Linked DNA regions of Homo sapiens. The protein of the gene in region 2 purifies or fractionates together with the protein of the main gene of each other region. This does not show direct contact. Each region holds a gene or a part of one and is shown on either strand. Other genes may lie near its edges.

Evidence for each region.
Region 1: the proteins of TBC1D30 (region 2) and MYO5B purify together in Homo sapiens (affinity purification with western blotting, with the first as the bait; one study listed by BioGRID). This does not show direct contact.
Region 3: the proteins of TBC1D30 (region 2) and SYTL4 purify together in Homo sapiens (affinity purification with western blotting, with the first as the bait; one study listed by BioGRID). This does not show direct contact.

Annotation. Positions count from the first base shown.
Region 1 is NC_000018.10:49,825,069-49,828,232, forward strand, and holds part of MYO5B (unconventional myosin-Vb), read right to left. Parts: intron 1,556-3,164; coding exon 1,403-1,555; 3' UTR 1-1,402. UniProt on the Homo sapiens protein: May be involved in vesicular trafficking via its association with the CART complex. The CART complex is necessary for efficient transferrin receptor recycling but not for EGFR degradation.
Region 2 is NC_000012.12:64,876,561-64,879,238, reverse strand, and holds part of TBC1D30 (TBC1 domain family member 30), read right to left. Parts: 3' UTR 1-2,678. UniProt on the Homo sapiens protein: May act as a GTPase-activating protein for Rab family protein(s).
Region 3 is NC_000023.11:100,729,322-100,733,458, forward strand, and holds the start of SYTL4 (synaptotagmin-like protein 4), read right to left. Parts: upstream 2,801-4,137; 5' UTR 2,683-2,800; intron 2,214-2,682; exon of another isoform or gene 2,185-2,213; 5' UTR 2,097-2,184; intron 1-2,096. UniProt on the Homo sapiens protein: Modulates exocytosis of dense-core granules and secretion of hormones in the pancreas and the pituitary. Interacts with vesicles containing negatively charged phospholipids in a Ca(2+)-independent manner.

The DNA.
Region 1 (3,164 bases), on a different chromosome or scaffold from region 2:
ATCTTATTTTCTCAATGTAATACAGAGGCTGTTCTTCCATGATTTGCAAATACCATTTTTTTCTTATGGGAACAGCATACTGCTATCAAGAAATACAGAAAAGACAGTAAAAAAAAGTGTGGAAAGAATATGGGTTTCCAATTGAATGCTTGCTTTTGAAGAAACCAAAAACAAGTTAAAAAAAATTCTAAGAGCAGCAAACATCTAAGCCTGTTATATTACTGAATTACTTTTTTAAAATCCTTATTTTGTGGGAGAGATATTTACAATTTTTTGTGTGCTAAATTTGAAAAACGTTGAAAATAACCTGAAAAGGGAAAGTTGACCTAAGCCATTTTATTCTCTTAAAAAAAAAAAACCCAAACTTTTGTATAATATCCCTGAACTGATTATTTTTGAAGGTTTTTCAGATGATCTGATGTGCGAACTTTAGTTTGTTTTACTATTTGGTTTCTGGAACAGTAGAGCATTATGTGATGCTCTTACTGGAAGCTTAATGGTATTAAGAGATTAAAAGCTTTCATATTGACTTGTTTGGTTTTTACATCTATAAATAAAACAAGTTTGTTATCCGTTTCTAATATTTAGCTTATATACATTTTTGTGAAAGTTTTGTGGGACTTGGAAAGTGTATGGACTAGCATCAGAAACAAAATATTTTTCCATCTTTCTCACTTGGAGTTTGGGATAGCAGCATTTTAATAATCTCTTCCATTAAATCAAGATAACACAAAAGCGTTTGAGCACACTGAGGACTGGCACTTCTAATTTTGCTTCAGAAACCAGTACTCAAAATGTCTGGTCTGGAGGTCAGTTACACCACTGTCTGTGTATAATCAGCCATTAAAAAATATTTTGGGAATATTTCTCAGAAGTCTCATCCCCATATTTTTGTTCTTAAAACATCTCACCACAAACTCAACCACACCTATGGTTTGCAAACTTTGGGAAATGTCAGTATATGCCATTATCATGGTTATTAGTACCATTATTTGTTAAAGCCCTTTGAAGGCAATTTATGTGACTTATATATATTTGGTATTTTAATTTGGACATTCTCTAGTTCTATGCAAAGATCAAAACTAGGCAGCTTCGTTTTATAGAATTGACACCTTTTATATGTCTATGGGGACTGCTTGGTGTCTATAAATTATGTATATGTGTTGGACTGAAATCAAACTTAAAATCTTCCATATTTCAAGTGTTTTTATTCTGAGCAGTAGGTACAAAAAATAATGACATAGTTGTGTCTAATTCTGTATAGTTCAGCACCCTCCACAGGCTGTCAATCTCTGATTTGATCTACTTTTACCAGATTTAACAGATCCTTGAATTTACTTTACTGTATATACTTCCTTCTTGCTCACATTGGGAATCAAACTAATGCTGGAAACATGCATCTTCAGACTTCATTGAGGAATTCCAGATTGAGACACGCTGGGATGTGGATTGAGTCCATGGTTAGAGAAGATGGATTAAATGGAAACAAAACAGGAAACATGTGCTTGGCATCTAATAGCAGTTGCTGAGGGTCATTCCGCTCTTGTAGTTGTGCCTATGGGGAAGAATAAGACCATGTAAAGTTTGAGTACCCCTAAAAATAGCCAGTTTAAGTGAATTCACAAAAGTGAGTTGGCATATATCATGGAAAGATTTCTACGACAATTAGGTAGAACTTCAGGACTAGGAGAATGTGATCTCCTCACCCTTGAGGTATTTAGTGGGGAGAGAAGCCCTGACTTAGGCTTCTTGGAGATCAGAGGGCTGTAAGCACTCTCCCAATTCTAGCATTCTTTAAAAAATTGTCTAAGGGAGAATATAAAATACATCTCAGGTGCAAACCATATGGAGAGGCACTATAGTGAAGTGGCCAAGGGCATGGGTTTTTTTTTTTAGGTAGACAGCTGAGCTCTAATCCTGGCACCACCCTGGGCAAATTCCTGAATTTTTTATGCCTCAGTTTCTTTACCTGTAGAATGGGAGAAGAGTACATCACATAAAATGGCAGAGTAGGAAGCCCTAGGGATTGGTCCCTCCACTGAAGCTACCTTGAAGTAGAAACAGTGATTGTCAACTATCTCATAACTCTGGAACTTGATTGGACATTTATAACAATCGGGAGACTGATTGGTAAAGGGAGAGGCTGCTGATCTTTGCTAAGGGAACTGTGTGTGTGACCCAGCTACTATCCCCCTCTCTTCAGCTCCCCTGAAGCTATGGGGATAGCAGCTCACATTCCTGGAGTAGCTAGCTGGCCAGGGTAGGCAGTGGGACCTTGTCCTCCAAAAATTTGGGGTTGTGCCCTTTGATCTGGTGGGTCCCAGCAGATGCCTGTCTTGGTTTAGACATTCCTTGGGATGCAATGGCTTCCACTAGTGGCATCAACTGGAAAATTTAAAGGCACAGAGCCCCTCCCTGCTTCCTATTTGAAGCCAGAAATTTTAGGAAAAGTACAAAAACTGAAATGAAAAATTCACTAGAGAAGTTTAACCGCAGACTTGAGCAGGCAGAAGAAAATCAGTGAATTTGAAGATAAAGCAATTGAAATGATCCAGTCTGAGAAGAAAATAAAAATAATGAGGTAAAAATGAACAGAGCCTAACAGACCTATTGGACACCATCAAGTATACCAACATACACATTACAGGAGTACCAGAAGGAAAAGAGCAAGAAGGGGGCAACAAAATATTTGAAGAAATAATGCCAGAAACTTCCCAAATCTGATGAAAGACATGTATGTAATCATCCAAAAAGTTCAATGAACTCCAAGCAGGATAAAGGCAAAGAGATTCACAGTGAAACACATTATACTAAATTGTCAAAACCCTAAGACAAAGAGGGAGTCTTGAAGGCAGTGAGAAAGAAGTGACTTGTCACATACAGTCATCCCTCAGTATCCATGGGGGATTGGTTCCAGGAATTCCCACAGATACCCAGATCCATGGATATGCAAGTACTGCTGTCGGCCCTGTAGAACCTATAGATAGAAAAAGTTGTCCCTCCATAACTACAGGTTCTGCATCCTGTGAATACTGAATTTTGAATCTGTGGTTGGCTGAATCTGCAGATATGGAACCTGTGGATATGGAGGGCTGACTGTATAAGGTATCCTCAAATAAGATTAACAGCTGTTTTTCATCAGAAACCATGGAGGCTAGGAGGCA
Region 2 (2,678 bases):
CAGCTTAAACTACCATGTTCAACATAACTTTTTTGTAGATAATGGCGTGTACACACATACACAAACGTACTGGAAAGATCTATATCTATATCAGAGTATTGATGATTCTTTATGCTCTTTTTGTTTTCCCAATTTTCTAAAACCTGTGACTTTTCTAATTAGGAAAAATAATATATTTTAAATGCTGCAGACAGCAAAGAAAGTGGCTCAGAAACGATGTAAAGAGAGTTTTTATATGGGGAGATGGCAGCAACTATACATCTATTCATACAGAATCCTTAATGCCATGCAGCTAAACTATATTTATTGTTCATTTTATTAAGACAAAAATAAATAGTAGATCTAAAGGTTAATTTTAGGTAAACTCTCTAGGTAAACTCTGTGCTTACTCATATTCAGGAACCAGCGAGTCTGCAAATGCTGGGCAGGTCACAGGCCACCCTGCAACCCAGCGATTAGACTGGGGGAGATAGAGCTTATTGGGCTGTTTCCCTGGTTCATGTGACCAAGGGGGGTCTGGGGTTGGGGGTGAAGGAAGAAGGAAGAAGGGAGAAGGGACTGTCACAACAGTGTTCCATGCTTGCACTCAGAAAATGGCAGAACAGTTACAACAATGAGAATCTTTATGCATATAGCTTTGTGATCAATACAATCCTTCAGAACAACAAGAGACAAACAAAGGAATACAATGTCCCAAACAGCTGCAGTCCACAGGCTGACATTGCTAACTAGATTTAGATCATCTGGAGGCTTTTGTAAGAGGAACTGAGGTGCAGAGGCATCAGAATGAGTTGATTCCCGGCAAAAGGGCTAAGAGGCTACAGACATATCTAAAAATCAAGAAACCACTACTTGTTAAGTACTTCTGGTGTTTGCATACAGTGTCCAATACATAGGGAAGATAGCAAGTCCATACTGGTCTTTGTACATGCTGTGTGGTAGAGGCTACTGCAGGTTTCTTTATTTTCTAAAGTAGGCAAGGCTCATAAATTGACCAATTCACATTGTGATTACTTGGTACAATGCATGCATGTTATTGGTACACAGAGTGCTTTAATAGGAATCTGTTGGATTTTCAAAATTCTGACAAGGCCATTTTTACCTCAGAGGACTATTATCCTTTCACTTATTCATTCATTCAACAGATACGTATCCCAAACTGTGTGTTACCTCATCCATCCCCTTCTCAGGAAGACCAACCCTGGAAATAGGTGAGAGGAGAGTGTTCACAGGGCACAGCATGTGTTGTTGATACTAAGTTTGTGGACAGCAATGGTACAATCCCAAGGACTTGTATAAGTGGCCTCTACCTCATTAACCATTTCCTTGAACCCAGACCATCAGGGAGCTAGTGAGCTGATTCAAGAGAGGAAAGAACAATTCTCCATTCAAGTCAGACATCCCTCAAGGGGAACATGACTATTCTGACTCATTTGAGAAGGGGCAAAGAAAAGGATATGAGGTGGAAACACTATTATCTGTAAAGTTTAGCTGATGGAAGAAAATGGTGTCATTTGCTTAACTTTGGAAAATGCAGTGGGTCTCTGGGCCCTGAGGGTGGTATGCAAAATAAGCCCATCTCTCCACCTACAGCCTTCCCAAAAAACAGGCTGTAGGCGTGGCTGCTTTTTAAGAAGCTGGATGCTAACTTCAGATGGCACAGAATTCAAGACCAAAACTGCAATAACTTATTAGTCATATTTTCCATCTTCAGTTCCTTTGGGGGTAAAAATACCACGAAGAAGATAAAATGGCTTTTCTCACGGTATAGGTCATTGTTGTGTTTTCTGTTCAAAAAAAGCCCACACAACCACATTCTCTATTATAAAAAGTAGTACCTCTCATAGTAAAAGCCTGCTCTACAGTTACAGTTTTCGTTTCAGAATTAACAATCCATTAGCTCAAATTAATATTGGCTGCATCAACAATATTCCTGCAAGTATCGCCAATCGTCTTCCAGAGACAAACATGAAGGCTGAGTCTATTCCTCTAATGATGGCGAGGAGAAGGGGATTGAGGAGTGAGCCTTCTGTTCAGCCAAATAACAGGTGCATGAAGCATTTTTAAAATAAACTCCCTGTTCAGGATAAGGAAGTCAGAGCTGGTTTTGTAAAATGCCATCAAGGGACTCTGTACCATCTGGAGACAGGTCCTTTGAGTCAGGAGGGATTTTAGTGAATGGCTTCCCAGTCTTGGTTTTTACACGCTATGTAGCCAATACATCTGTGTACAAAGAGCATTAAACCCACCTATTGCACTGAAGGAAATGTGGCTAAGTCACTTGGAATACCGAGAGTACTGACCTTGAGTAACTGAAGTGCTACTTCACCTCTGTGTGGCTCAGAGTTCCCATCTGCATAGTGGAGACAAGAGGTGCTATCCCTGACCCGCTGGGTGAGAGAGAGCTAGAAAGGGCAGGAGTGAGAGGGAGCTAGAAAGCACTGGGGCCTTCTCCAGAGAAAGGCAGTGTTCAATTAACAAAGTACTCAACAAAGGACTCCAATCAAAAAGCACAAAATTCAAGTAACAGAGTCACAGGTGCTGTGTTCTGGCTTCTGAGCAGAGGCCTTGTGCGTCTGCAGTCTAGAGCTGGTGGGTGAGTGAGCTGTGTGGTGGGGGATGCAGGCCAGGCTCCGCATGGAGCCCATCAAGTCATCCGTACCACTGAGGATCAAAGC
Region 3 (4,137 bases), on a different chromosome or scaffold from region 2:
TGAATACAACAGACAGCAATCCCTGCCCACAGGGTGTTTATGTTATGGTGGGTGAGGGAGTGGGAGGGCAGACAATAAGCAAGAACAATGTAATAAGGTAGGGAAAGGGCATATGGAATGTTCAGGGAAGGGATTACACGTTTAAATAGGGTGGTCAGGGCAAATTCCTAGCTGTGGTATTTCAAGTGCCTCAGGAAGGTGTCTTCTGTACCTCAACCCCACCATCACTACACCTCAGCCCCTTGAAGGAATGGCATGGTATGTCCGGTTACTGGCACAAATATTTGCCAACATCTTATATTTAAGACAAAGGGAGCTCCGAGATCCAGACCTTGCCCTTAGAGAACTTACAGCCTTCCAGGTGGAAAAACAACTAAGCAGTGTTAAGGGCTTTACTGAGGTGTAAACAAAGTGCTTTAGGACACAGGATAACTGGCAATTCTGCTTGGGGGAAGAAGTATGTGTTCAGTAAGGCCGTTCCAAAGGAGGTGACTTTAGAACTCAATCTTGAGGGATGGATAGGAATTAATGTCAGGGGAGGGGGAATGAGGGAGGAAAGTTAGCTTTTTAGGAAGAAAAAAAGGAACAGTTTGAGCAAAGTCCCAGAGATGGGAATAGGGAGGACATTTTCTTCCTATCCTTGTCTATGGTACTCCATCCATCCCATGACAAAACTAGCACACGATCACCCTCAGGCTCTCTGGTATGGCTGTCAGGAAATCCATATCACTTACCACTCCCTCATTTCTCCCCTAGCCAGCAGGAGAGGAAGAAGTTGAGTCAGGCACACATCCCTAGAATCCAGGGTTACCCTCCCCTAACTTCAGGACAATTACCACAGAGCTGAAAACCCGGGAGATTTCATTCATCTAATTACACTCAGGGATGTGTACTTATAGTGGTAACGTGGCAACTGGCCCATGTTGGAAATGAAGTGGGTAAGACATCAGTAAGGTAAGTAGTCCATAGTCTCGGCAGTGCATCTAAGGTGGAAGCAAGGAGAAAAACATATACTTGGGCTTGGAAGACAATTTTTTAATCACTTAGTCCTCATCCATGAGCTATTCAGTGTTCCCAACATCTAAGACAACAGAGGTGGTGTGACAGGATAGGAACACAAGCTCTGCCTCCGAGATTTTGAGGGCAAGGCACTTAACTTCTCAGTCTCTTTTTCATCATAATATGGTTATAACTGTAGCACCTACTGTATAGAGTTATTGTGAGGATTGCATTTTTATGTAAAGAACTTATCACAGTGTCCAGCTCAATGGAGCCTAACAACCAGAGCCTAACAAGCTCAGAGAGCCAGAATGCTACATATACTCACAGATCAATTACCCCAGAACAGGCCTCCAGCTCCATTTCACTGCTCTGACCAAGAGTGAGACACCTGAAATTGTGTTACCAGAAATGTTCATCCTCTGCCCAAAAAGGGCCTCACAAGCCAAGTTGGTGGTGCTTTTCTACTAGGGTGCTAAAAACCAAACAACCAAAAACGCAGAAAACTTCATCAAGGCCACGTCTCTGCATTAAACATTGTTCCCACAGCGACAAAAGTCTTAAGTCATTAATACCTCAATATTAATAGATTTATGAGAGGTGGGGGTGGGGAGCTTAAAGAGCAGAAAATAAGCCAGTTAAATATAGGAGGTCCAGGATGTACAGAAGACTCATTTTTGCCACAAATATACAAGGTCTAGGGTCAACCCTGCCAAGCACAGTACTCTGGAATTTTACGTCCTCTAATCCTGAAGAAGCAGGGTACTGGGGGAAGAAAAGCTTGATTAGAAAGTCACCACTTTTCAAGCCACCAGAATTCTAACCAAATGATTTCACCACCCCAAATCCCACCTCATTCAATGTTAAGGGTTGGAGGAACACCTTTTTCTGCCCCATTACAAACCAACACAGGAGACAGAAGCATTCTGTGCCCCTTCTGAGATCTCGGGGACCCTCCTCCAGTACCAGATCTCTCACAGCCTGCTTGAAGAGCGGCAATATAAAGCAGCTCCACAGCACACAGCCAGGTCCCCAGCCCCAAGCGCAGAGGGAGCCCACTGAGGCAGGACTCCAGCCAACCAGCCTCCAGCCTTTACCTGTGGCTGACTGGCCAACGCCAGAGAAGCCGCGATGTCGTAGGTCCGAAGAGAGTGCGGGTTAGCGACCCCGCTCGACGGCCGAGCGCTGTGAGAGGAACCCACGAAAAGGTGACTGGACGCCTTGGAGGGCGCAGTTCCCGCTAGGAGCTCGGCCCCGCCCCCGCCCCCAGGGCCAGCTCTCGGGAGGGGCACCAGCTCGGGCTGGCGGGAAAAAGCCCGGGCACTCCCCGCGAGGGGAGCCGAAGAGGAGAGGGGAGGCGGCTCCCAGAGGGGCACAGACCGCATTAGTGCTGGGTGGGTCAGGGAAGGGGCCAGAAGAAGCCCTGGAGAAAGAAAAGTGGCCGGGAGGGACCGCCCAAGCAGACGGGAGTCCAAGCCTGGGGATGCGGTCGGGAGAGGCGGACGGGGAGAGGGGAGACGCGGTCAGCTAGGGAGAAGGAAAAATTGGGGGACCAGAGAGCGGGTAGGGAAGACGCACGACCCCGAGATGGGGGTGGGGGCGCTTCAGCAGCGAAAAGGAGCTGGGGGTCCAGAAGGAGCACCGGACCGAGGGCGAGGGGCCGGCCGCTGGCTGTTGACCTACCTGTCACTTGCAACAGGTGCCTCCAGAGATCGAGAAGTCCCAGTGCCGGTTTCAAGGGAGGGTCTCCGGCTCCGGGAAGATCGCAACCCAGCTCCGGCAGCCGGCCCTTCTCACCCTCCCGGGAGGCGGAAAAAGCTGCAACTTTCCCTGGAGCGGGGAGGAGCTGGACTCTTAAAGGGGCCGCACAGCGCCCCGGGCTCCTTAGCAGGGGGCCACTCAGCCCAAAAGGGAGCTCTGGGACCCAAAGCCTTGAGACACAAGAGGAATGTCCTTCCAGGTTAGGAATGGGAGCCTGGGGACTGAGGATAGGGGTCTAACACTAGACGTGCCTCCTCACCCACTTACTTCCATCTGTTGGTCACTCTCTTAGACGGTGAAATCACCTGTCTCTTTCGTTCAGCTGAGTCAAAAGTTGTCAAATTGTCTCACACTTCTAAGAAGATAAAAGAGTATGAACTATCTAATTTGAGTAAATAAAATATAATACCATTCTGATCCTTTGACTTGTGGCCTTTTATGGCAAATAAATGTCTGTCTAAAATAGAAACGTTTTGGGCAAAAGCGTAGACTAAATTCATACATACACACTCAAGGACACAACTGGTTAAAATATCCAACTCACTAGTAATCAAAGAAAAGCAAATTAGAACAATAATGAGATTCTTTGGCAAAGATATTTTTTATTTTTTAATAACACTTAATGATGACAAAGTAGCCACCAAACAAGCTGTCTTAATTGCTGATAGCAGCATATGTTGGTTAAAAACCCTTTTAGAAAGCACGTGAGCAATATGTATCAATAGACTTGAAAATGTTTATACCTACCCAGTAATTGCAGATTCCTCTCCCTGCCTCTCCCATCCCTCTCCCCCTCATTTCACATCAGCAATTAAACATGCTCAAGTATCTACCATCTTAAAAAAAGAACCTCCCTACACAGGAGGTCCCTCTTCAGGTCCTCTTTATGGGCAAATGTATTGAAAATGTACTTCACAGGTGAAATTGCAATTTTTATTCCCTTACTTCTCATTCATTTCTTAGCTCTCAGCAGTCTGGCTTCCTTCCCCCACTGAAACTTCTCAATGAGATACACAAACAATGACCCTCAGTGTCAATAAATCCATAAATAAGTAAGGTATTTTTGGTCCTTATTTTGCTTGACTTCTCCCCTACATTTAACACCGTTAACCATTTCCTCGTCCTTGAAACTTTCTATGGCATCTATGACATTTTACTCTTTTGCTTTTCCTCCTACTCCTTTGCCCTCTCCTCAGTGACCTTTGTAGGCCACTCTTCTGCTATCTGACCTCTGAAAGTCAGACATTCTCAGGGCTAGGATACATATACTCCCTCCCCCAAATAATCTTTTTCACTCACTTGGCTTTAATTACCATATATATGGTCACAACTCTAATTCTATAACTCTACCCAGACTGCTTTATTGAGTTCTGTGTT